7 linked regions of the Homo sapiens genome follow. The protein of the gene in region 3 purifies or fractionates together with the protein of the main gene of each other region. This does not show direct contact. Each region holds a gene or a part of one and is shown on either strand. Other genes may lie near its edges.

Region 1 (2,390 bases), on a different chromosome or scaffold from region 3:
TCTGGACCTGGGATCCTGGCAATCACAACCCTAAGAGGAGAAGGCCCCACATCCGAATTTCCTCCCTTAGGGTTAGGTTGGGCTCCCTGGTCTAATCTCTTACCCCTGGCTGTGGGCTGCAGCTTCCTATCCCTCTCCTGCTCTTCTTCCTGTAGGCGGCTCAGAATTTCCTCCAGGGTCTTCCCAATCTCCACAAAAGATGGGCGCAGTTTGGGATCCATCTGTAGGTATCCACAACAGCCATGAGCTCTGCCCTCCATCTCCCACCCCAAAGATGGCATTTGAGTCTATTTCTGGCATCTTTGAAGATTCAGATGTGCAGCTGAGAGACCTTTTCTAAAGGCCCCAGACAATGAAGGTGATCCCTACAGTTCAGGTCAGGGAAAACACTACTGTCTACTACCCTCCCTGTCTTAGTGTTTGTCTTATCACCTTGTCACAGAACCTTCCAAAAGTATGCTCATATTAGTTTATTCTGTTCTTGAGTTCTGCTCCTAATGTGTTTCTGGGAGGTATCTGAACAAAGCCCACCTACCCCTTGATCCTAACAGGTAAGGTCCAGCCCCAGAGCTACATACATGAAGGCCAAGAAGAGCCTTTCTCATATGCCTCAGGACCAGTTGGATCCACAGTCCAACAATAAAACCGGACCAGAGTTCCATCAACACCTAACGCAAGGAGTGATGGGTCTACCCTACAGGTTGAGGACCAGATAATACAAAACAACTTCTTTCTTTCCTTTGTCCAGAGCTCTGAATAGGTTAGCTGCCAGAGGGAGGAGGAGGAGGTGTGGTTGCTGTCACTACAGTGAAAATGAGGTCCCTCATGAAGCTAATTAGCAGCCTCTCTGTACAGTCCTAACCAGGTGAAAAGGGTTCAGCCAGCCCCTGATGAAAGGCAGAGGGAGAAAGACACTCACGTTACAGCAGTTGAAAGTAAGTTGCAGAAAATCTGGGGGACAGTCTCCCACCATGTGCTGGAAAGCATCATAGTCCAGCCCGAAATTCTGTGGATGGGTATGGAAAGCATAGGTAGACAGTTCATTAATCCCCCCACCCATCCTAGCCTGCTCAGTAGAAGTGGTTGGGAGCTGCCCCTGACAACCAGCAACAGAGAGTTCCAGCAAGTCCATCCCAGGGACAGAACAGTTCCATTGCTTCAAACTAGCCCCATCAGTGGCAATGATCCCCATGCTTGCAGCTCACCTCTGTGCGGGGAAGATAGTCCGGATCGGCCTGGATGCGGGCGATGATCTCGCAGAGGATGATACCATAAGAGAACACATCTGCCTGGTGGGTAGTCGGACTTTGGTTTCCCTCTTAATGGGTTGAGGGGTAGGGTATCTGCCCCTGCCCCTGCCTCCCCTGCACCCCACCATCTAACAGCCCAGGCCTGGGCCATATTGCCCATACTTCATCCCAGTCAGTCACTGGGCAGCTGCCAGGTACCACCACTGCTCTTGGTAGGAACATCTTGGACACTCTGCTAAGAGTGGATTCTAGGGAGAATCAGCCGAGCGCGATGGCTCATGCCTGTAATCCCAGCACTTCAAGAGGCCGAGGTGGGCAGATCACTTCAGGTCAGGAGTCTGAGACCAGCCTGGCCAATATGGTGAAACCCTGTCTCTACTAAAAATAAAAAAATTAGCTGGGCGTGGTGGTGCATGCCTGTAATTCCAGCTACTTGGGAAGCTGAGGCAGGAGAATAGCTTGAACTCGGGAGGCAGTAAGCCGAGATCGTGCCACTGCATTCCAGCCTGAGCAACATAGTGAGACCATCTCAAAAAAAAGAAAAAGAAAAAAGGAGAATCAGGCCTTGAGATCCTCCAAACTTACCTTTTCATTATAGGGCTCATCTCGGAGAACCTCAGGTGCCATCCAGAATGGGGAACCCACCACGGCCAGCTTCTCACTCCCCATGCTGTGGGGTGAGATTATACAGAAAATGAGCTTGCCAATGGCTGGTGCAATGGAATCTTTTGACCATTCCTCCACCTCAAGGATGGGTACAGACGAGGACTAAACAAATTTAGGGAGCTGAGGTTGAGCTGTGACCAAGTCCTGGCCTCTGGGGAGGAGGCTAGAATTTTCCCTTAGCTTCAGCCCCCTGTCCCTTGGACCCCAGCATCCAGTAGGGCTACACACCTGACATCGGGGATCTTCTCAGCCAGGCCAAAGTCAGCTACCACTGCAGAGTAACCATTCTCATCCCTCTTTATCAGGCAGTTCTAGGGTTCCCAGGAAGGAAGAGAAAATAATGTGGCTCAGAAGCGGGGATCAGCCATAGAGTTACCACCCATTCCCCCCTTCCTATCACAGGGCACCTTGTCCTCTGCTCCTTGGTGAACCGCACTCAAGCTGACCCCACTGGTCAGGTCAGGGGCTCTAAGA
Region 2 (3,500 bases), about 50 Mb from region 3:
TGAGGTGGGAGGATCACCTGAGCCCAAGTCGCAGTGAGTAGAGATGGGCCACAGAGTGAGATCCTGTTTCAAAAAAAAAAACAAAAAAAACGTGGCGGGCACAGTGGCTCATGCCTGTAATCCCAGCACTTTGGAGGCCAAGGCGAGTGGATCACTTGAGGCCCGGAGTTCGAGATCAGCCTCGCAAACATAGTGAAACCCCATATCTACTAAAAAATACAAGAGTTAGCCAGGCACAGTGACACATGCCTGTAATCACTACTTGGGAGGCTGAAGCAGGAGAATCGCTTGAACCCGGGAGTCAGAGGTTGCAATGAGCTGAGATCGCGCCACACTACCCTGCAGCCTGGAGGACAGAGTGAGATTCCGTCTCAAAAAAAAGAAAAAAGAAAAAGAAAAAAAGAAAAATTAAAAAAAAATGCATTAACTGAAAATTTAAAACATAATCAGTCACAGCTAGATTAAATTATCATTAATCCCGGTTAAGGAATCTTATATCCCAACAGCTAGGTCTTAGCAATATGCACCATCTCTTTTTTTTGAGACAGAATCTGACCCTGTCGCCCAGGCTGGAGTACAGTGGCGTGATCTTGGCTCACTGCAACCTCTGCCTCCCAGGTTCAAGTGATTCTCCTGCCTTAGCCTCCCAAGTAGCTAGGATTACAGGCATGTGCCACCACGCCCAGCTAATTTTTTGTGTTATTAGTAGAGACGGAGTTTCACCATGTTGACCAGGCTGGTCTCGAACTCCTGACCTCGTGATCTGCCCGCCTCAGCCTCCCAAAGTGCTGGGATTACAGGTGTGAGCCACTGTGCCCGGCCTGCATCATCTCTTTAGACAAATAACTTTTTGCATCCTAGTAGTAAAGAATGTTAATATTATTAATATACTTGAACCTAAATTTATTATCAGTAAATATTTGATAGAGTGTGATTGTTTATTTATTTTTTTGTTTGTTTGTTTGTTTTGAGACGGAGTCTCGCTCTGTCACCCAGGCTGGAGTGCAGTCCGCGATCTCCGCTCACTGCATGCTCCACCTGCCAGGTTCACGCCATTCTCCTGCCTCAGCCTCCCGAGTAGCTGGGACTACAGGCGCCCGCCACCACACCCCACTAATTTTTTTGTATTTTCAGTAGAGACAGTGTTTCACCGTGTTAGCCAGGATGGTCTCAATCTCCTGACCTCGTGATCCGCCCTTCTCGGCCTCCCAAAGTGCTGGGATTACAGGCGTGAGCCATCACGCCCGACCGTGATTGTTCAATAAACTTTATTTTGGAATTATTTTAGATATGCTAATCTAATGTGATAAGAATTCTTTGAAAAGAAAATTTTTCTTTTTATTCTACAGTTAAAAAAAACTGAAAACATTTCATATGAAATGCTTTTTGAACCTGAGCCAAATGGAGTAAATTCTGTGGAAATGATGGATAAAGAAAGAAACAAAGACAAAATGCCTGAGGATGTTACATTCAGGTAATATTTAAGAAAAGCAAAGGAATCATTCACAAAACTGTGTAACTGCTTAAAAATGGTGAACTTCAGAGTCAAAAGTACTGGATTTCAGCCCCAGCTTAGCTACCTAGGAGCTATAGAATCTTGAGCAAGTTATATAACCTCTTAAACTACACATTCCTCACTTGTAAAAATGGCAATAGGGCTGGACGCACTGGTGCACATCTATAATTCCAGCACTTTGAAAGGCCAAGGCAGGAGGATCACCTGAGCCCAGGAATTCAAGACCAGCCTGGGCAACATAATGAGACCTCATCTCTGAAAAAAAAAATTAGCCAGGCATGGTGGCATGTGCCTGTAGTCCTAGTCTGTACTCGGAGGCTGAGGTGAGAAGATCACTTGAGCCCAAGAGCTCGAGGCTGCAGTGACCCATGATTGTGCCAGTATACTCCAGCCTGGGCAACAGAGTGAGACTCTGTCTCAAAAAAAAAAAAAAAAAAAAAAAAGGCATAATAACAGTATCTATCTGACAGGTGTGTTGTAAAGATTAATACGAAAACACATGTGGCCAGGAGCAGTGGCTTATGCCTGTAATCCCAGCACTTTGGGAGGCCAACGGGGGCAGATCACTAGAAGTCAGGAGTTTGAGACCAGCCTGGCCAACATGGTAAAACCCTGTCTCTACTAAAAGTACAAAAATTAGCCAGACATGGTGGTGCATGTCTGTGGTCCCAGCTACTTGGGAGGCTGAGGCAGGAGAAATGCTTGAACCCAGGAGGCAGAGGTTGCAGTGAGCCAAGATCACACCACTACACTCCAGCCTGGGCGTCAGAGTGAGACTCCATCTCAAAAGAAAAGGAAAAAAAAAGAAAATACATGTACAGCACTTTACACTGTGCTTAGCACCTAGGAAGTATTCAATAAATGATACCTTACCCCAGGTGCATGCCTGTAGTTCCAGCTACTCAGGAAACTGAGGTGGGAGGATTGCTTGAACATGGGAGGTCAAGGCTGCAGTGAGCCATGATCACGTTACTACACTCCAGCCTCGGCAACAGAGCAAGACCCTGTCTCAAAAAAATTTTAAAAAGAGAGATAAATACCTTAAAAAAAAAAAGTCAAAAGGCATATAAGCTGTAGCAGAGTAAGCAATTCATCACTGCCTATGCAGTCGGCCCTCCATATTCATGGATTTATGCCTTTACAGTCGGCCCTCCATATCCATGGATTCCGAACCCATGGATCTGGAGGGCCAACTGTACTATGCCATTTGATATAAGGGACTGGAGCATCTGCAGATTTTGCTATCTGTGGGGGGGCCCTGAAATCAGTCTTCCCAGGTAATGATTGACATTGGTCAAAATTCTAAGCTGTCTCATAAGAGTTCCAGAAATTATGGTGATTTTCTTTTTTCTTTTAGCTATATTTCTTTTTTTGTTTTTTTTTTGTTGTTGTTTTTTTGTTTTTGAGACAGAGTCTCGCTCTGTTGCCCTGGCTGGAGTGCAATGGCGCAATCTTGGTCCACTGCACTCGGTTCCCGGAGGGAACCTCTGCCTCCTGGGTTCAAGCAATTCTCCTGCCTCAGCCTCCTGAGTAGCTCAGACTACAGGCGCGTGTCACCACGCATGGCTAATTTTTATTTTTTTATTTTTTTTTTTATTTTTAGTAGAGACGGGGTTTCACCGTGTTAGCCAGGATGGTCTCGATCTCCTGACTCATGATCAGCCCGCCTTGGCCTCCCAAAGTGCTGGTATTACAGGCGTGAGCCATCGTGCCTGGCCATTTTTAGCTATATTTCTTAACTAGCCTTCTTTTTTTTTTTTTGAGACAGAGTCTCACTCTGTCACCCAGGCTGGAGTGCAGTAGTGCAATCTAGGCACACTGCAACCTCCACCTCCTGGGTTCAAGCGATTCTCCTGCCTCAGCCTCCCAAGTAGCTGGGATTACAAGCGTGTGCCACCATGCCCAGCTAATTTTTGTATTTTTAGTAGAGACGGGGTTTCGCCATGTTGGCCAGGCTGGCCTCAAATTCCTGACCTCAGGTGAT
Region 3 (2,420 bases):
ATTTGTGCTCTTCATGATTTTGACTTTTTTCTATAGTCCAGGCTCATTGCCTTGTAGAATACCCATTTTCCAAATTTGTCTATTGTTTCATTATTAGAATTGTAGGTGACATAATTCCAAACATATTTTACACACATATACTGTTACTTGAAAATGAGCAAACTAAGTTTAGCTTAGAAAAGAAAAGGTTTAGGAGCTTCTTTTGACGGTCACACTGGCTGTCAGATCTATAAGGACAAGTCATCAAGTTGTTTAAAGAAATGAATTTTCAACAATTGTGTGAAGCTATCTGCTGGGTGCAGGAAATAAAAAAATGAATAAATAATAGTCCCTGCCCTCCATAAACTGAAATCTAGGGCATGAGAAAAACACAAGTGACTGTAACTCAGGGCAGACTGATAGCTGGGAAAATGTCTCAAGAGAACAGAGAAAGGACAGTAATTTAATCTGGGAGGATCTGGAAAGGTGCCACAAAGAGCTAGGATGTAGATACACTTAAACAGTGGGTGGGTCTTTTTTTTATTTTTTTAATTAACAAATAATAATTGCCCATATTCATGGGGTACACAATGATATTTCCATACATATAATGTGTAGTGATCAGATCAGGGTAATTAGCATATCCATCATCTCAAACACTTATCATTTCTTTATGTTGGAAACATTCAACAACTTCCTTCCAGCTATTAGCTATTTGAAACTACACATTATTGTTAACTACAGTCATCCTACAGTGGTACAGGATATATTAAACAATAAGTATATTTCTTAAAACATGAGCAATGGCTTGGAAGACAGCACAGGTACAGAGATTGTGTGCCTAGTATGGTGCGAGAGGAGATAGGAAAATAGGCTGAAGAAAGATGGTGGTAGTTTATTTCCAATTTTTATGGATACATAATAGTTGTACATATTTATGGGGTACATATGATATTTTGATACAAACATACAACGTATAATGATCAAATCAGGGTAATTGGGGTATCCATCACCTCAAACATTTATCATTTGTGTTGAGAACATTCCAAATCCACTCCTTTATTGTGAAATATACAATAAATTATTAACTGTATTTACCCTATTGTGCTACCAAACAACAGATCATATTCCTTCTATAGATTTTTACACCCATTACCCAACCCCTTTATCCTCCCACCCCCCAACCCCCATTACCCTTCCCAGCCTCTGCTATCCTGTTGTATTCACTACCTATAGTGGTAGATTCTGAATGTAATTTGATTCCATGCATATTCATTCTAAGTGTATCTATTGACAGTTTCTATCTGCTTGGGTGTGGGGCATGATACAATCCCATTTAACTCAGAGAGATCTCTGTGGCAGAATGTGTTGGCTGGGGCAATATCCAAAGTTTAAGCAGTTTAAGAAGCTACTGCAAAATCCAGGTAGGCTGTAGTAAAGCCTGAAGCACGCGATGTAAAACAAAGCAATGGTTACTGGCTGGATGTAGGGAGCAAGGATGAAGTCAAATGATTTTTTTTAAGGATTTATATGCCTTTAGATAAAATATGAATTAAGATGCCTAAAACATGTAGCCTCTGGCTAACCCTAGACTCCAAGAGAAGCTCCCAGCCAAGTCTCCTGGAGACCACCGGAAATGAGTCATCACACTATAATCCACTGCCAAGTAATGATTCTGGATCCCGTCCACCAATTCACCCACAGACTTCATGTTCTCAGCAGCACAGTGATGTGACAGGAAGCATCATAGAAATGAGATTTCATTTAATGGCCTGAGAAGCTAAGGTTAGAATTGGGGTTCCGAACTGAAATACTTCCAAGGCCCAGCAGATAAGTGAGTAAAGTGGGTCCCTTAGCCTTGGTGTCAGGGAGACAATCCAGGATGGTGGGCCATAGAGCAAACCATGGAGTGCATACCCTGAGCAAGGGTGTAGCCACCCGACAGGTGGAGTCACTCAGCTCCACCCAAGTGTTGTCATTCAAGACTGTGGGCTCAGTGTTGTCGAAACGGCACATTTTAAAAAAGAGCAGCTTGAAATGCAGATTTTAGATTTCCTCATTTTTAAATGCTGGCAATTGTTCAAAAACAAGATGGACAAACAGAAAAATAAACCAAAACACTGTGAAGGACAAATAGCACATTGTGTGAAAACACAATGGAGCCCACAAGATGCAACCCTGGTGCCGAGATCTGCGGAAAGTGAAGAGAATTGAGAAGGAAGTTGCTGGGAGGACTAGAAAATCTCTATTAATCAGAATCCAGAGCACTCCACTGAGAGCACAATCCAGCTGCTGGAAATAGGATTTAAGTGGAAATTCCTCCCTCTCAGTGAATAACAAATATGATGCGTATTTTCCTGATTATGGTCTTTACGTCTTACATTTTCCAACTCTCTTGATATCCCCATTTTGCAGAGTTTCGGTAGAGAATCATTCTCTTG
Region 4 (3,198 bases), on a different chromosome or scaffold from region 3:
TCATGCCCTGGCAGTAGGACACCTGTGGGTGGGTAACGGCATAGGTGGTGAGCAGGTCGTGCAGCGCCCGTAGATGTGGGCCATCCTCAGGCCCCGCATAGTAGGGGTGGGCCCGGTCAGTGCGCAGTACATCCTTGAGGACCGTGCTGCGGATGAATTCCAGGTCCTCAGGGTTCGCTCGCTGGGCCCACTCGCTCTTGAGCTGCTCATACTCGCGGCTCTTGCGTTTCATGTAGTCCATCCGCTCTCGGCCTGTCAGTCCATCTGGATACACGTTCAGCAGGTACCGCCACACCACCTGCCCAGGGGTGAAAGGGATGAGGCTGGAGTTCTCCAGATAAACCATACCCCAATGTCTATCAGTTGCCACCCACCCACCCCCCTTGGGCCTCTGTCTTCCTTCTAAGTCTGCTAGGCCTCCGACTGCTCGCCCCTCCTTAAAGAGAACTTCGTGCCCTGTAACATCTCCACCCTTGCCCACAGCAGTGTGGCTGACTGCATGTGTCTCAGGAGCTGTTAATGAGTGCAGCAGTGATGGACCCAACAGATGACTGAGGATGCTCACCTTTCGCAGCGAGGGCTCCACACCGCCATGATAGATCCGCAGGCGCAACTCCTCGGGTCGGGAGAGCTGGCCCTCGTGGTTCAGGTACGTGTGAAACTCAGCATCGCTCAGGGGTGGCTTGAAGGGCTTGACATCTTCCCCATACGACCAGCTCAGCACTTGTTGGACCTTAGACAAGGTACGGCCCACCTATGAGGAGGGAGGGAGGCCACCATCAGCTGTGTGGACTAGGGGCAGATGCCAACCAGCATGCTCAGAACCAGGGTGCCAGGAAGGCTCTGCCCTCCAACCACAGCTGGGTCCCTAGGGTCCCTGAAAACACCTGAGTGAGGATGGACTGTGTAAAGGGCAGGGCGGCAGTCGTCAGTGATGACCGTTTCTCAGCCAGCAACACGTCGGAGCCAATGACATCTTTGGGGCTGATTATGTCCCAGTCTTCTAGCAATGGGCCTGGGCAAACAGAACAAAGTGCTATAAGAATGGGGATGATAACCCAGACCTCAGGGCCGGCTTCCTCTCCTTCTACTGAAGCCGGGCTACCTGCAGGGGAACAAACAACTCCCAGTCCCTCTTCCTGTATCATCCAAATCATGTAAAAAACAAAATCAAACCATGAACAATTCTTTTGTAGTAGATGTCTCAGGAACTGGCTGGGCAGCCTCTAATATTTTAATGATATAAAGTAATATTTATTGAGCAGTTACTATGTGCCAAGCACTAGGACAAGCGCTCAACAGCAATATAAGAAATAATAATACTAGCTAATGCTTCCACAGTGCTGTATGCCAGGAACTATTCTGAATTCTTTGCCAATACTGACTCATGCAATAGTCACTTCAGTCCTATCGGTTGAGTACTACTACTACCATGACTCTCTTTGAGGAAACAGGCACAGTCATGATAAGGTACTTGCCCAAGGCCCCTTAGCTAGTGAGTGAAAGAGTGGAAATTTGAAGGCCAGGCCCAAGCTCAAGAGCCCAAACTCCTACTCTCATATTTTTGCCAGTCCTCCTCCCACAAACAGTGCACGCTAATATTACCATTCTCATTTTACAGACGATGACAAAAAGGTTTGGAACAAATAGTAAGTGACCAAGATTCTACAGCCAGGAAATAGTAGGGCTGGGATCTGAACTTCATTCACCCTAGTCCAGAGCCCAGACATACTTTAGAAATAAAATATTTGTGCAAAAGTGGAACAGGTATGCCGTATATGCTTTTTTTTTTTTTTTTTTGGAGACGGAGTCTCACTCTGTAACCGAGGGTGGAATGCAGTGGTGTGAACGTAGCTCACTGCAAACTCTGCCTCCTGGTTTCAAGTGATTCTCCTGCCTCAGCCTCCCGAGTAGCTGGGATTACAGGTGCCTGCCACCATGCCCAGCTAATTTTTGTATTTTTAGTAGAGACGGAGTTTCACCATGTTGGTCAGGCTGGTCTTGAACTCCTGACCTCACGTGATCCACTCGCCTTGGCCTACCCAAAGTGCTGGGATTATAGGCGTGAGCCACTGCACCCAGCCTCTTTTTTCTTTTTTTTTTGAGATGGAGTCTCACTCTGTCGCCCAGGCTGGAGTGCAGTGGTGCAATCTTGGCTCACTACAAACTCCACCTTTTGGGTTCAAGCAGTTCTCCTGCCTAAGCCTCCCAAGTAGCTGGGATTACAGGTGCCTGCCACCAGGTCCAGCTAATTTTTTTTTTTTTTTTGAGGCGGAGTTTCACTCTTGTTGCCCAGGCTGGAGTACAATGACGGGATCTCGGCTCACTGCAACATCCACCTCCTGGGTTCAAGTGATTCTCCTGCCTCAGCCTCCCGAGTAGCTGGGAGTACAAGCATGTACCACCATGCCTGGTGAATTTTATATTTTTAGTAGAGACGGGGTGTCTCCATGTTGGTCAGGCTGGTCTCGAACTCCCGACCTCAGGTGATCCACCTGCCTCGGCCTCCCAAGGTACTGGGATTACAGGCATGAGCCACCACACCTGGCCTAATTTTTGTATTTTTAGTAGAGATGAGGTTTCGCTATGTTGCCCAGGCCGGTCTCGAACTCCTGACCTCAGGTGATCAGCCCGCCTTGGCCTCCCAAAGTGCTAGGATTACAGGCATCTTTTTTTTCTTTTTTTGAGACAGTCTTGCTCTGTCCCCCAAGGCTGGAGTGCAGTGGTGCGATCATAGCTCACTGCAGCCTCAAACTCCTGGGCTCAAACGATCCTCTTGCCTCAACCTCCTGAGTAGCTGGGGCTTACAGGCGTGTGCCACCATGCGTGGATGATTTTTTTTTTTTTTGGTAGAGATGGGATCTTACTATATTGCCTATGGTCTTGAACTCCTGGGCTCAAGAGATCCTCCTGCCTTGGCCTCCCAAAGTGTTGGGATTACAGGTGTGAGCCACTGCACCTGACCGTTTCTCTTTCTTTTTCATTTTGCCCCGCATTCTTTCTTCCCACCTCACATAAGATGTGGTGGTTGAAGCAGCAGTGGCCATCTGAGAGTAGGTTCGAGAGGATCTTCAGAGATCCTCTCCTACAGCCCTGATACGAGAGGGCTACTAAGCCAACAATGGCAATGTCCAGTGGCTGGCTTTTTTTTTTTTTTTTTTTTTTGAGACGGAGTCTTGTTCTGTCACCCACACTGGC
Region 5 (3,500 bases), on a different chromosome or scaffold from region 3:
GAGGTTGGGAGATCGAGACCATCCTGGCTAACACGGAGAAACCCCATCTCTATTAAAAATACAAAAAATGAGCCGGGTGTGGTGGCACGTGCTTGTAGCCCCAGCTACTCGGGAGGCTGAGGCAGGAGAATCGCTTGAACCCAGGAGGCGGAGGTTGCAGTGAGCCAAGATTGAGCCACTGTACTTCAACCTGGGCGACACAGTGAAGATTCCATCTCAAAAAAAAAAAAAAAGAATTAAAAATATTTCCCAGGCTATAATCCTCCAATGGTTTCCTATCACAACTAAAGTCTATATTCTTTGCCAAGGCCCACTATACACACATGGCCTTAACCCACCATAGTCCTGGCATCCTTTTCACTCTTCCGCAGCCACCCTGTGTCTTTCTGTCCTTGGCCAAAAACAAGTTTGCTCCCATTCAAGGAACTCCAAAGTAACTGTCTGTGTGGACCCCTGGCTCTCACCAACCATCCTCACAAGGCTCCCTTCTCACTTTAGGACTGCTCACAGGTCACGTAAGGAGAGCAGCCATCTTTCATCCCCACAACCCCCATGTAACTGTCCTCCTCCCCAATCCATGACCCTATTTTACTTTTCTCCCTAGCACCTCACCACCTAACATTCTTGATTATTCATGTATTATCTATCCCTAGCTCCCTCCAGAATGTAAGGATCAGAGTTAGGATGAGGTTCTGTCTTGTATACCACTGTCTGCCCTAAATCTGGAACACAGCCTGGCCACCTAAAGGTACTCAATAAACATCTGTTTCAGCACACCCAAAACTAGTCAAGTTTCTCCCAGTTTTCCCACATCTTTTAATATTTCTTCTAACATTCTCTCTTGATTTGTCATCTAATCAAATCTTTTAAAGTGGTAAGCATCAAATCTTTTAAAGTGGTAGCTATTCAGAATTAAAGATGCAAGATAGGCTACCAAGAAACAAAAAATATTAAATGATGAATTCTAAAGTCCAGGGAAAAGTCAATGCTAACTCCAATTTGACATAAGAACTTTTTTTTTTTTTTTTTTTGAGATGGAGTCTCGCTCCGTCACCCAGGCTGGAGTGCAGTGGCGTGATCTCGGCTCACTGCAATCTCTGCCTCCTGGGTTCACACCATTCTCCTGCCTCAGCCTCCCGAGTAGCTGGGACTACAGGCGCCCGCCACCACGCCCGGCTAATTTTTTGTATTTTTCGTAGAGACGGGGTTTCACCGTGTTAGCCAGGATGGTCTCGATCTCCTGACCTCGTGATCCACCCGCCTCGGCCTCCCAAAGTGCTGGGATTACAGGCGTGAGCCACCACACCTGGCCCATAAGAACATTTAATACTAAAATATCTTAACTACAAAATGACTCAACCCATAGATTTAACTGAATTCTACAGGGAGGTACAAGGCATCAGTCATCAAAATATGTTTTTATCGGTACCCTTGAAATCAAATGTAATGAGACTGTGTATGATGTTACTAGAAAAGATGCCCAATCATAAAGGATAGGTAAATAAATGATACTCCAACCATCTGATGGTACATTAAGCAGTTACTAGAAGGCATGCGATAGAGCAGGGTGTCCTGGCATGGAAAGATATCTTGGAGCACTCTCTGGATGTCAAGCAGTGATTCAGGAATTTATGACATTATTTCACTGCTGTAAGTTATGAAGCAGCTCATATAGAATGATCTCATTTTTCTAAAATAAAATGTTATATTCATATGCATACCATAATCAATGACTTTTCTGTATTCTCTATGTCTTTTACATCAAACATATTATTCAAAAAAGCAAAAAAAAAAAAAAAAGAGAGGGCTTAAAATAGCTACTGGAAAGAGGAAAGATCTGTTGCTCAGAGGTTTTTCCACATTACATTGCCAATTCTTTCCCTACCTTCACCCATCAGTGGAAAAGAATAGAAAGAGTCACTTCAGAGAGCGCCTTTAGCCAGCAAATTAGCAAAGCTCCTAACGTCAGAACATAAAATGCTCCATGAAAAGTCAAGAGTACTAATAAAATCGGACAATAAGATCTTAGTATCTTATTTTGTGTTACTGATACTACCGTCAGTTATGTTAGACATACCGTTAAATAAAGGCAAGGTAGTAGAAAATACTTTGAGTCTATCTGAAATGTTTACTAGGTTCTTAGGAGCATCTCTTAGCTTGACGAGACCAGGCGTGGTGGCTCACACCTGTAATCCCAGCACTTTGGGAGGTTGAGACAGGTGGATCACCTGAGGTCAGGAGTTCCAGACCAGCCTGGCCAACATGGTGAAACCATCTCTACTAAAAACACAAAAAATTAGCTGGGCGTGGTGGCACACACCTGTAATCCCAGCTACTCAGGAGGCTGAAGCAGGAGAACTGCTTGAACTCTGGGCGCAGAGGTTACAGTGAGCCGAGATCGCGCCATTCCACTCCAGCCTGAGCAACAAGAGCGAAACTCCATCTCAAAAAAAAAAAAAAGGCCAGGCGCGGTGGCTCACACCTATGATCCCAGCACTTTGGGAGGCCAAGGCAGCTGGATCGCTTGAGGTCAGGAGTTCGAGACCAGCCTGGCCAACATACTGAAACCCTGTCTCTACTAAAAATACAAAAATTAGCTGGGCATGGTGGCATATGCCTGTAATCCCAACTACTTGGGAGGCTGAGGCAGGAGAATCACTTGAACACGGGAGGAAGAGGTTGCACTGAACCAAGTTTGTGCCATTGCACTCCAGCCTAGGCAAGAGTGAAGCTCTGTCAAAAAAAAAAAAAAAAAAAAAAGAAATAGCTTGAAGAACAAAGCCGAGCGTCATTTATGTATGATTTTTGTCTAAGTAACAAAAATAATTCTTCATTGTAGAAAAGCTAAATTTTTTGTTTGTTTGTTTGTTTTGAGACAGAGTCTTGCTCCACTGTCCAGGCTAGAGTGCAGTGGCACGATCTCAGCTCACTGCAACCTCTGCCTCCTGGGTTCAAGTGATTCTCCTGCCTTAGCCTCCTGAGTAGCTGGGATTACAGATGCCCGCCACCACACCCAGCTAATTTTTGTATTTTTAGTAGAGACGGGGTTTCACCATGTTGGCCAGGCTGCTCTCGAACTCCTGACCTCGTGATCCGCCCACCTCAGCCTCCCGAAGTGCTGGGATTACAGGCGTGAGCCACCATGCCCAGCCAAATGTTTTACATCTCAGTAAGAATTTCTGTTTCCAGGGAGACTGATATAAAATTGTCTGAAATAAAGATATTAAAAGCAAACTTTCAATGTGTCTATACTTTATATTTGGTGTTCTGGCCATGTTTCTATGGAAACTTATGAATAATAGGCAAATGCCGAAATGGAGATTTCTATTATCACTTTATTGAATGCCACAAAAATAAATTTTGAGACAAATTGAAATAAAAATGTAACTGTCATACTAACATACAATGGTAAATTCTGTGCTTACAAATTCTCTTTTTCCAACTTTTCTGATTTAGCACTCTTTATCATCATCCCATGCTTAATGCCTGGTACCTTACCT
Region 6 (3,500 bases), on a different chromosome or scaffold from region 3:
ATGATCTTTGATATTCAAATTCCTCTGGACTAATTTGACGGCAAAATGATGGAGCAGATAAAGTGATATCCATATCAGCTCCTGGGTATTTTATCTGAGGCAAAAGGATTAGTAGTGAAAGAATATAGCATATTTTCAAATAAATTATAAGAATTAGTTTAGATCAAATACAGGATATCTCCTTGTACCGTAGCAATGCCATGTTAGTCCTCAAAATTTGATTGGGGGAAACTCTATATTGAAAAGTAAAAGTATTTCCATAACTTCAAAATATTATTATTTAAAGCCACGGTTTTAAATTGGATTTTTACCTTTGTAAACCCAAGAGCCATTTCAATAACAAAAAAAGCTTGTGCCCTCGTTGGGAACAGGCCCCAAAACTGGCCATAAACAAAATCTCTGCAGCACTGTGACATGCTCGTGATGGCCTTGATGCCCATGCTGGAAGGTTGTCCGTTTACAGGAATGAGGGCAAGGAACACCTGGCCCACCCAGGGCGGAAAACCGCTTAAGGCATTCTTAAACCACAAACAATAGCATGAGCGATCTGTGCCTTAAAGACATGTTCATGCTGCAGATAACTAGCCAGAGCTCTTCCCTTTATTTCACCCACCCCTTTATTTCCCATAAGGAATACTTTTAGTAAATCTTATGACTGGCTTGCTGTCAATAAATATGTGGGTAAATCTCTGTTCAAAGCTCTCAGCTCTGAAGGCTGTAAGACCCCTGATTTCCCACTCCACATTCTATATTTGTGTGTGTGTGTGTGTGTGTCTTTAATTCCTCTAGGGCCACTGGGTTAGGGTCTCCACGACCGAGCTGGTCTCGGCATTCCCTCTTTTAACAAGATCTGAAATTCAAGCATAAATTAAACACATTGACTAAAATGATTCAAAACATTGATAATGTTGGATATCCACTGGAACTATCCAGGCGCATTCCCACATCTGAAGAGTGTGATTCTCAATGCCTTGGGGATGGTAGTGGCATGCATTTAGCTAAGCTTTTAGGAAGAGAGGGGTACTACAATCATTTCCTAACATCTTACCCATGAGAATCAAGTAAAACAACAAAGGTGCAGACATTGCAGAAGGGATAAGGGAGAAGAGAGAAATAAGAGGAAAAAGGAAACCAAGGCCTGTGAATAAATGAACATACATTAAAAATATTTAATTTCAGAGCCTGGAGTCCTTTGAAATAGAAGGTTGCAGATGAGGATCATAGAAGGCTTGTGTCAAAAACATTGCCTACCTAATAATGTATCCCAGGGTCAGCCCTGAAACTGTCCTAAAACAATCACTGGAATAATCCAAGCAACACTGCATTTTCAGAGAAGCACTCCCCTAAATGTGATACAGTGTAGAGGCTTAGGAGCCTAATCAAAAGAACAAAGATCTATAGGTTCTGAGGGCTGAATGGAACAGGTGCTTGGCAATTCTAATATGTACTTGCAAGAGAGAAAAGGTAACTGGACAAATGAATCACTACTGATTTTATTCAGAGCACACTGCAGTGTCTCTTAACAAGATCATGTTTACCTGCAGTTAAATTAATCACCATAGCTCAGCCTTCTGAACTTCAAGTAATAGCAAAGGGCTCACAAGGCTAAGTTACTACAATATATGCCTGTGCTATGCATGTGAATACACAAACCTAGCAAGTATACAGGGCAACACAGTTATTGCTTGATATTGTTTGGCTGTGTCCTCACCCAAATCTCATCTTGAAATGTAGTTCCCATAATCCCCTTGCTGTGGGAGATGGGAGGTAACTGAATCACAGGGTGGTTCCCCCCATGCTGTTCTTATGATAGTGAGTGAGTTCTCATGAGATCTGATGGTTTTATGAGGGGCTTTTCTCCCTTTTGCTCGGTGCTTCTCTCTCCTGCTGCCTCATGAAGGATGTGTTTGCTTCCCCTTCTGCCATGATTGTAAGTTTCCTGGGGCCTCCCCAGCCATGCTGAACTCTGAGTCAATGAAACCTCTTTCCTTTACAAATTACCCAGTCTTGGGTATGTCTTTATTAGCAGCATGAGAGCAGACTAATACACTGCTATAACATTTCCTTGCAGAAACTTGGTGAAGTATTTCTGTTCATTTTTATTTTCTTTAGGGTTGGCTCATAAAAATATCAGAGGAAAAAATTAAACTAAAACAGCAGTTAAAATTACACTTTTCACCCATGCAAGTGGCAAAGATATATACAAGTGTTAATGATAATATCCAAAGTAGGCAAAGGGGCAAAGAAATGAACACTCTCTTATACCACTGACAGAAATGTAAATTGAAATGATCATTCTAAATTTGGCAATATGCTATAGATACTTAAAATATGTTCATGGCCTTTGGCCAAGCAATGCTGCCCCTAGGAGTTTATTCTTAAAAAATAATCACAGATTAGCCAAAAAAAATCTACCTTTAAAAATATTTACTGCTATATTGCTTCCAAAATGGGGGAAAGCATGAAAACAATCTAAATACCAACCAAAAAGTATCATTTAAATAAATTATGGTATATCCATATTATGGAATACTATGTTGCCAATAATATTATTATGGAATAATATAACAATAATGATGATACCAACAACAAAGGCAGCTACTAATTGTAGGTTTACAATGTGATAAACATTATTGTGAGCATTTCACATGTATTAAGCCCACATGTATTTTAATCACATGTTTTAATTCCCCAGAAAAACTCTATGAGGTAAATATTAACTACTATTATTCCCATTTTACAGATGAGAAAAAGAAATGTTGGGACAGATGTTGAAGCACAGACATGTTATATAATTTGCCTAAGGTGACACAGCTAACAAAAGGCATGTCATGAATTCAAAGGCTCCTGAGTCTGTGCTCTTGGCCATTCTCATGCCAATCAACAATATTTAATGATGGGGGAATTTTTTTCTCATTGTTAACAGAATGTAAGTGGCAGGAAGGGAGGCAGGCAGGAAGGGAGGCAGGCAAGAAGGAAGCAGGGAAGGTGGGAAGGAGGGAAGGAAGGAAGGGAGGGTGGGGAGGGAAGAGAGAGGGAAGAAAGTAAGGTAGGCATGGACATAGACAGCAGACAGACACAGAAAAAAAAATCTGAAAGACTATATTACTGACTATGAACATTTTAGTGTAACTCTGATACTTTTTGGTGTGTTTTTTCTATATTTCCCAAGTTTCTTCAATGTGTTAGGTTGATAATTGCAAAAAAATAGAAAAAATTTTAATTTTAAAATTGCCTTCTAGAAACAGCTGGACAATTAATTATTTTTGTAATACCTCAGAAGGAGGCAGTTCACTGGTCCTTGATTGTGGTGCCTCAAAAAGATCTCAAATGAGAAGAGGTCCAATCAGTCAGAAGGAGTCAAGTGGACCTTCTGCCTGCCTTTACCAGGTTTCTGCTCCCACAGGCTGACATACAAACCCCACTTTGGGGTCCACACGATAATAATATATTATATTTCTTTTGCATTGTTTTTATATAACCACCATGACAACAGCAGC
Region 7 (3,500 bases), on a different chromosome or scaffold from region 3:
CTTATGCTGAGAACAGGCCTCTCTCCCAACAATGAGGAGCTCTTCCCCTGAGGAGGAGAAAGGATCTTGTTTAGGGCTCTGACCTCCATTGAAGGACAGTGTTCAGATTGTCATCAATAAGCAGAGAGAACAAAGAGGTACCAGAACAGGGAGCAAGGCTCTACTAACCCAGTGAGACAATGACACCTAGGGCATTAAGTGGCTGAAATCTACTGAATCAAAAATCCTCGGCTAAAGGGAGACAGGAATCTGTATTTTAGAGAAGTTCCCCAAGCAACTCTTACGTGAGGCCAGATTTTAATACCAGGGAATTAGTCCAGTTCTTCAGTTAGCTAGAGGAGCTTGGGAGTGGGTGAGAAACAAAGCTGGGTTTCAGAACAATTCAGTGACAAGCCTAGATGACCCAGGTGGTGATATAACAGCAAGACTCGGACCCAAATCCCATATGATGTTGTGAGGTGTGGCAGGTTTGCTTGTGGAGAAACCAAGGCAGGAAAGCAAGAGTGGTCGGGCCAGAGTTTTGCAAAGCCCAACTGCTGCCAACAAGACCCTGAAACAAATGGCAGGCCTCCGAGATGAGATACACTTGAAGCCCCAGAGACTGGGATGCTAAATTGGCTGGCTCCAGATGCCTCACTTTGATGACTGGAAGGAGAGGTGAGAAAGGGTGTAATTACATAGCTTCACTTAGGTGTGGCTCAGGACCTGGGCCAGATTGGAGTCTGTAGGTGAGAGGGCTTGTAAGACCCAACTGTAAGGGGAAGCAGCAGGAAAAACAAGGCCAAGAATAACTCACAGGCAAAAAACAAAAAGCTTATCCCTGCGCTTGCCCCTTGCAAAACACATGTGCCTATTAGCCGCTTTCCTCAATCCCCTTTGCATCACATATTTTAAAAAATGGGCCAGATGTCAGGGGGAGCTGGATACCTTCCTGACAGGACCCTAATTTGCAGCATAACCTTGGACAAGTGAGTCTCGTAGTCCTCTGGACCTTGAGCTTCCTTATCTAGCAACTGGAGACAGCAATGCTTACCCATAATGGTGATGTGAGAGTCAAATGAGTTAACACTGAGAAACCTTAAATGCTATACAAATATAAGGGATGGCATTGTAACTCTTTAGTTAAGTTCTTGCCACTCACTTCTGTGCAAGAGAAGCTGATGTAATAAAGTATTTCCTAGGTCGGGTGCAGGGCCCACACCTGTAATCCTAGCACTTTGGGAAGTCGAGGCAGGTGGATCACCTGAGGTCAGGTCACCTGAGGTGAGGAGTTCCAGATCAGCTTCACTAACATGGTGAAACCCCATCTCTACTAAAAATACAAAAATTAGCTGGGCATGGTGATGCATGCCTGTAGTCCCAGTTACTGGGGAGGCTGAGGTAGGACAATTGCTTGAACCTGGGAGATGGAGGTTGCAGTGAGCCAAGATTGCACCACTGCACTCCAGCCTGGGGGACAGAGCAAGACTCTATCTCAAAAAAAAAAAAAAAAAAAAAAAAAAGGAAGAAAGTATTTCCTGGCAGATAGACGAGTGTAGTGGTTATGAGCCTGGGTTGAGTCATCAGGCCTAGGTGCAAATTTTGCCTCTGTCATTTGTTAACTGACTCTGACTAAGTCATCTAAACTCTCTGTTAATCTGTAAAAATATAGATAATAATGCCTTCCTCCCAGAATTCCAGTTAGGATTGAATAAGTGTGAAGTGTTTCACTTGGTGCTTGGCAAGCACCCTGATGGATCATGGCTGCTATCTTCCTAATTGTTCTCAAAATGCACCAGATTCCTGAACAATAGTATCGGGGAATGTCTGACGAGTATTCTGAAACCAGAAAAGAGGTGCCCTCAGGCCCTTGGCTTTAAGCACTTACATCAATAAGGTCAGATAGGTCATGGATGTAGTACTTGAAGACAGATGCATTGGTTGCCTCCAAAGCCAGCAAGTACTCATTCCGGGCTTTGATGGCCTTCAGCTTATTCTCCGTGTACTTGGCTTGACGCTGAAAAGGAAACAGAAGTTCACTTTTACCTTTTTTTTTTTAAGGGGGGCTTGTTCTCTAAAAGATAAAAGTACAGTGTATTCAAGAACTACAATTGTGTTGCTACTCCCTATGCGCATCTGCCTTAAATTGGGTTCTAATTCTGTTTAATGAGATTCAAGGGCACAATGTAGATCAATTCAGGAAAGGTTAATGAGGCTCCCTACTTAAGATGCGTGCCCCACTTTGATTCTATCTTCAAATATCATTCTTCATTCTTGCAATGCCACTCTGAAGGAGGTACCACTACTCTTGCCCCTGAACACCTGATACCTGAAACCAAATCCTGGGTTTACAGTCACCCCCAACCCCTCCAAAGCAATAGGATATTGAGCTCTATTTGGAAAATGGATTGGGAAAGGTGACTGCTGTTTCTTGGTTTTCTGCTAGAGGCTAGAAACTTGGATCCCACGTGCCCAGTTCTTCCAATACCTAGTATTCCTGCCAGGGCACAGAGCAAGGCCTCATTTTCAGTCATTAGGCACTAAAAGAACCCAGAGCTTCCTCGTCTGCTCTTCCCAGTGACTACTGGGAAATTCCTATCAGCCATGCCTTACCGAATGTTGCTTCCCAGCATCTACAGCTGTGGGAGCCTACATACCTTCTCCTTCATCTTCTCAATCTTCTTCACTGAGCTCCTCCGGACATGTTTCTCCTCAATGCGAACGTTGGCCGTGGAGTCAGGGGAGCGTGGGGTCTGCCGGTCCTCCTGCTTTACCGATTTACCAATTTGCTTCTCCTCCTGCTTCTCCGCCTCCTTTAGTTTGCTCTGAGCACTGATGCTGTCGGCATTGTACATGTGATATGTCTTCATCACCTGCAAGACATCGCCCACCCCCACCCCCAGAGGTCAAGCCAAGGGGGTCATTTCTCTGCTTTACAGACTAACAGACTCAGCTGGAGCTCTCCCCCATGAAGCAATATCCTCACACCCCTAAGGGAAAAATCCAGAAGTGTTTGGTTCAGCAAACACAGATTAAAGACCACTCCAAAGCACAGGAAAGCAATATGTGAACTGAGCCAACATTTCCTCTTATTGAAATAACTTAATGTCTATCCATCATGTATTATTTATTTCTATTCATTATCATTTGTAATCATTTCTCTTTAATATTGGCCAGGTGATTTCTATCACTTAGTCACCTCATAATACTGAGTAGATGGGAAACAACACCACCACTCTCAGGCCCCAAGGGCAAAGCCTTTCTGGGCTGGTCAGGAACCCCGAAGAGGGCAGTGCAGCCTATGGAGTAGCCTATGCTTTCTGTTACCTTTCAGATATAAAATAGGGAAGAGGAAAAGCTTCCAAAAGCTCCTTTTACCGGCCTGGCATTCTGGGGATCTGTCTGTTCTGCTTTATCCAGATCAAACACCCTCTCACAGCAACTGCAATGCCAGTTATCATTTACTGAGCACTTAGTATATTCCTGGCTTTATGCCAAGTACCACACAACACATTTTCTCA

The links.
Region 1: the proteins of RAB3IP (region 3) and TESK2 purify together in Homo sapiens (affinity purification with mass spectrometry, with the first as the bait; one large-scale study listed by BioGRID). This does not show direct contact.
Region 2: the proteins of RAB3IP (region 3) and PLEKHA5 purify together in Homo sapiens (affinity purification with mass spectrometry, with the first as the bait; one large-scale study listed by BioGRID). This does not show direct contact.
Region 4: the proteins of RAB3IP (region 3) and TBC1D25 purify together in Homo sapiens (affinity purification with mass spectrometry, with the first as the bait; one large-scale study listed by BioGRID). This does not show direct contact.
Region 5: the proteins of RAB3IP (region 3) and CCNYL1 purify together in Homo sapiens (affinity purification with mass spectrometry, with the first as the bait; one large-scale study listed by BioGRID). This does not show direct contact.
Region 6: the proteins of RAB3IP (region 3) and DEPDC1B purify together in Homo sapiens (affinity purification with mass spectrometry, with the first as the bait; one large-scale study listed by BioGRID). This does not show direct contact.
Region 7: the proteins of RAB3IP (region 3) and SRGAP2 purify together in Homo sapiens (affinity purification with mass spectrometry, with the first as the bait; one large-scale study listed by BioGRID). This does not show direct contact.

Annotation. Positions count from the first base shown.
Region 1 is NC_000001.11:45,345,774-45,348,163, forward strand, and holds part of TESK2 (dual specificity testis-specific protein kinase 2), read right to left. Parts: intron 2,228-2,390; coding exon 2,145-2,227; intron 1,921-2,144; coding exon 1,836-1,920; intron 1,290-1,835; coding exon 1,206-1,289; intron 1,007-1,205; coding exon 920-1,006; intron 222-919; coding exon 104-221; intron 1-103. UniProt on the Homo sapiens protein: Dual specificity protein kinase activity catalyzing autophosphorylation and phosphorylation of exogenous substrates on both serine/threonine and tyrosine residues. Phosphorylates cofilin at 'Ser-3'. May play an important role in spermatogenesis.
Region 2 is NC_000012.12:19,360,233-19,363,732, forward strand, and holds part of PLEKHA5 (pleckstrin homology domain-containing family A member 5), read left to right. Parts: intron 1-1,349; coding exon 1,350-1,474; intron 1,475-3,500.
Region 3 is NC_000012.12:69,821,280-69,823,699, reverse strand, and holds the end of RAB3IP (rab-3A-interacting protein isoform alpha 1), read right to left. Parts: 3' UTR 501-2,420; downstream 1-500. UniProt on the Homo sapiens protein: Guanine nucleotide exchange factor (GEF) which may activate RAB8A and RAB8B. Promotes the exchange of GDP to GTP, converting inactive GDP-bound Rab proteins into their active GTP-bound form.
Region 4 is NC_000023.11:48,556,714-48,559,911, reverse strand, and holds part of TBC1D25 (TBC1 domain family member 25), read right to left. Parts: intron 1,016-3,198; coding exon 888-1,015; intron 755-887; coding exon 566-754; intron 299-565; coding exon 1-298. UniProt on the Homo sapiens protein: Acts as a GTPase-activating protein specific for RAB33B. Involved in the regulation of autophagosome maturation, the process in which autophagosomes fuse with endosomes and lysosomes.
Region 5 is NC_000002.12:207,714,640-207,718,139, reverse strand, and holds part of CCNYL1 (cyclin-Y-like protein 1), read right to left. Parts: intron 1-3,500. UniProt on the Homo sapiens protein: Key regulator of Wnt signaling implicated in various biological processes including male fertility, embryonic neurogenesis and cortex development. Activates the cyclin-dependent kinase CDK16, and promotes sperm maturation.
Region 6 is NC_000005.10:60,599,167-60,602,666, forward strand, and holds part of DEPDC1B (DEP domain-containing protein 1B), read right to left. Parts: intron 95-3,500; coding exon 1-94.
Region 7 is NC_000001.11:206,392,041-206,395,540, reverse strand, and holds part of SRGAP2 (SLIT-ROBO Rho GTPase-activating protein 2), read right to left. Parts: intron 2,853-3,500; coding exon 2,637-2,852; intron 1,997-2,636; coding exon 1,868-1,996; intron 1-1,867. UniProt on the Homo sapiens protein: Postsynaptic RAC1 GTPase activating protein (GAP) that plays a key role in neuronal morphogenesis and migration mainly during development of the cerebral cortex. Regulates excitatory and inhibitory synapse maturation and density in cortical pyramidal neurons.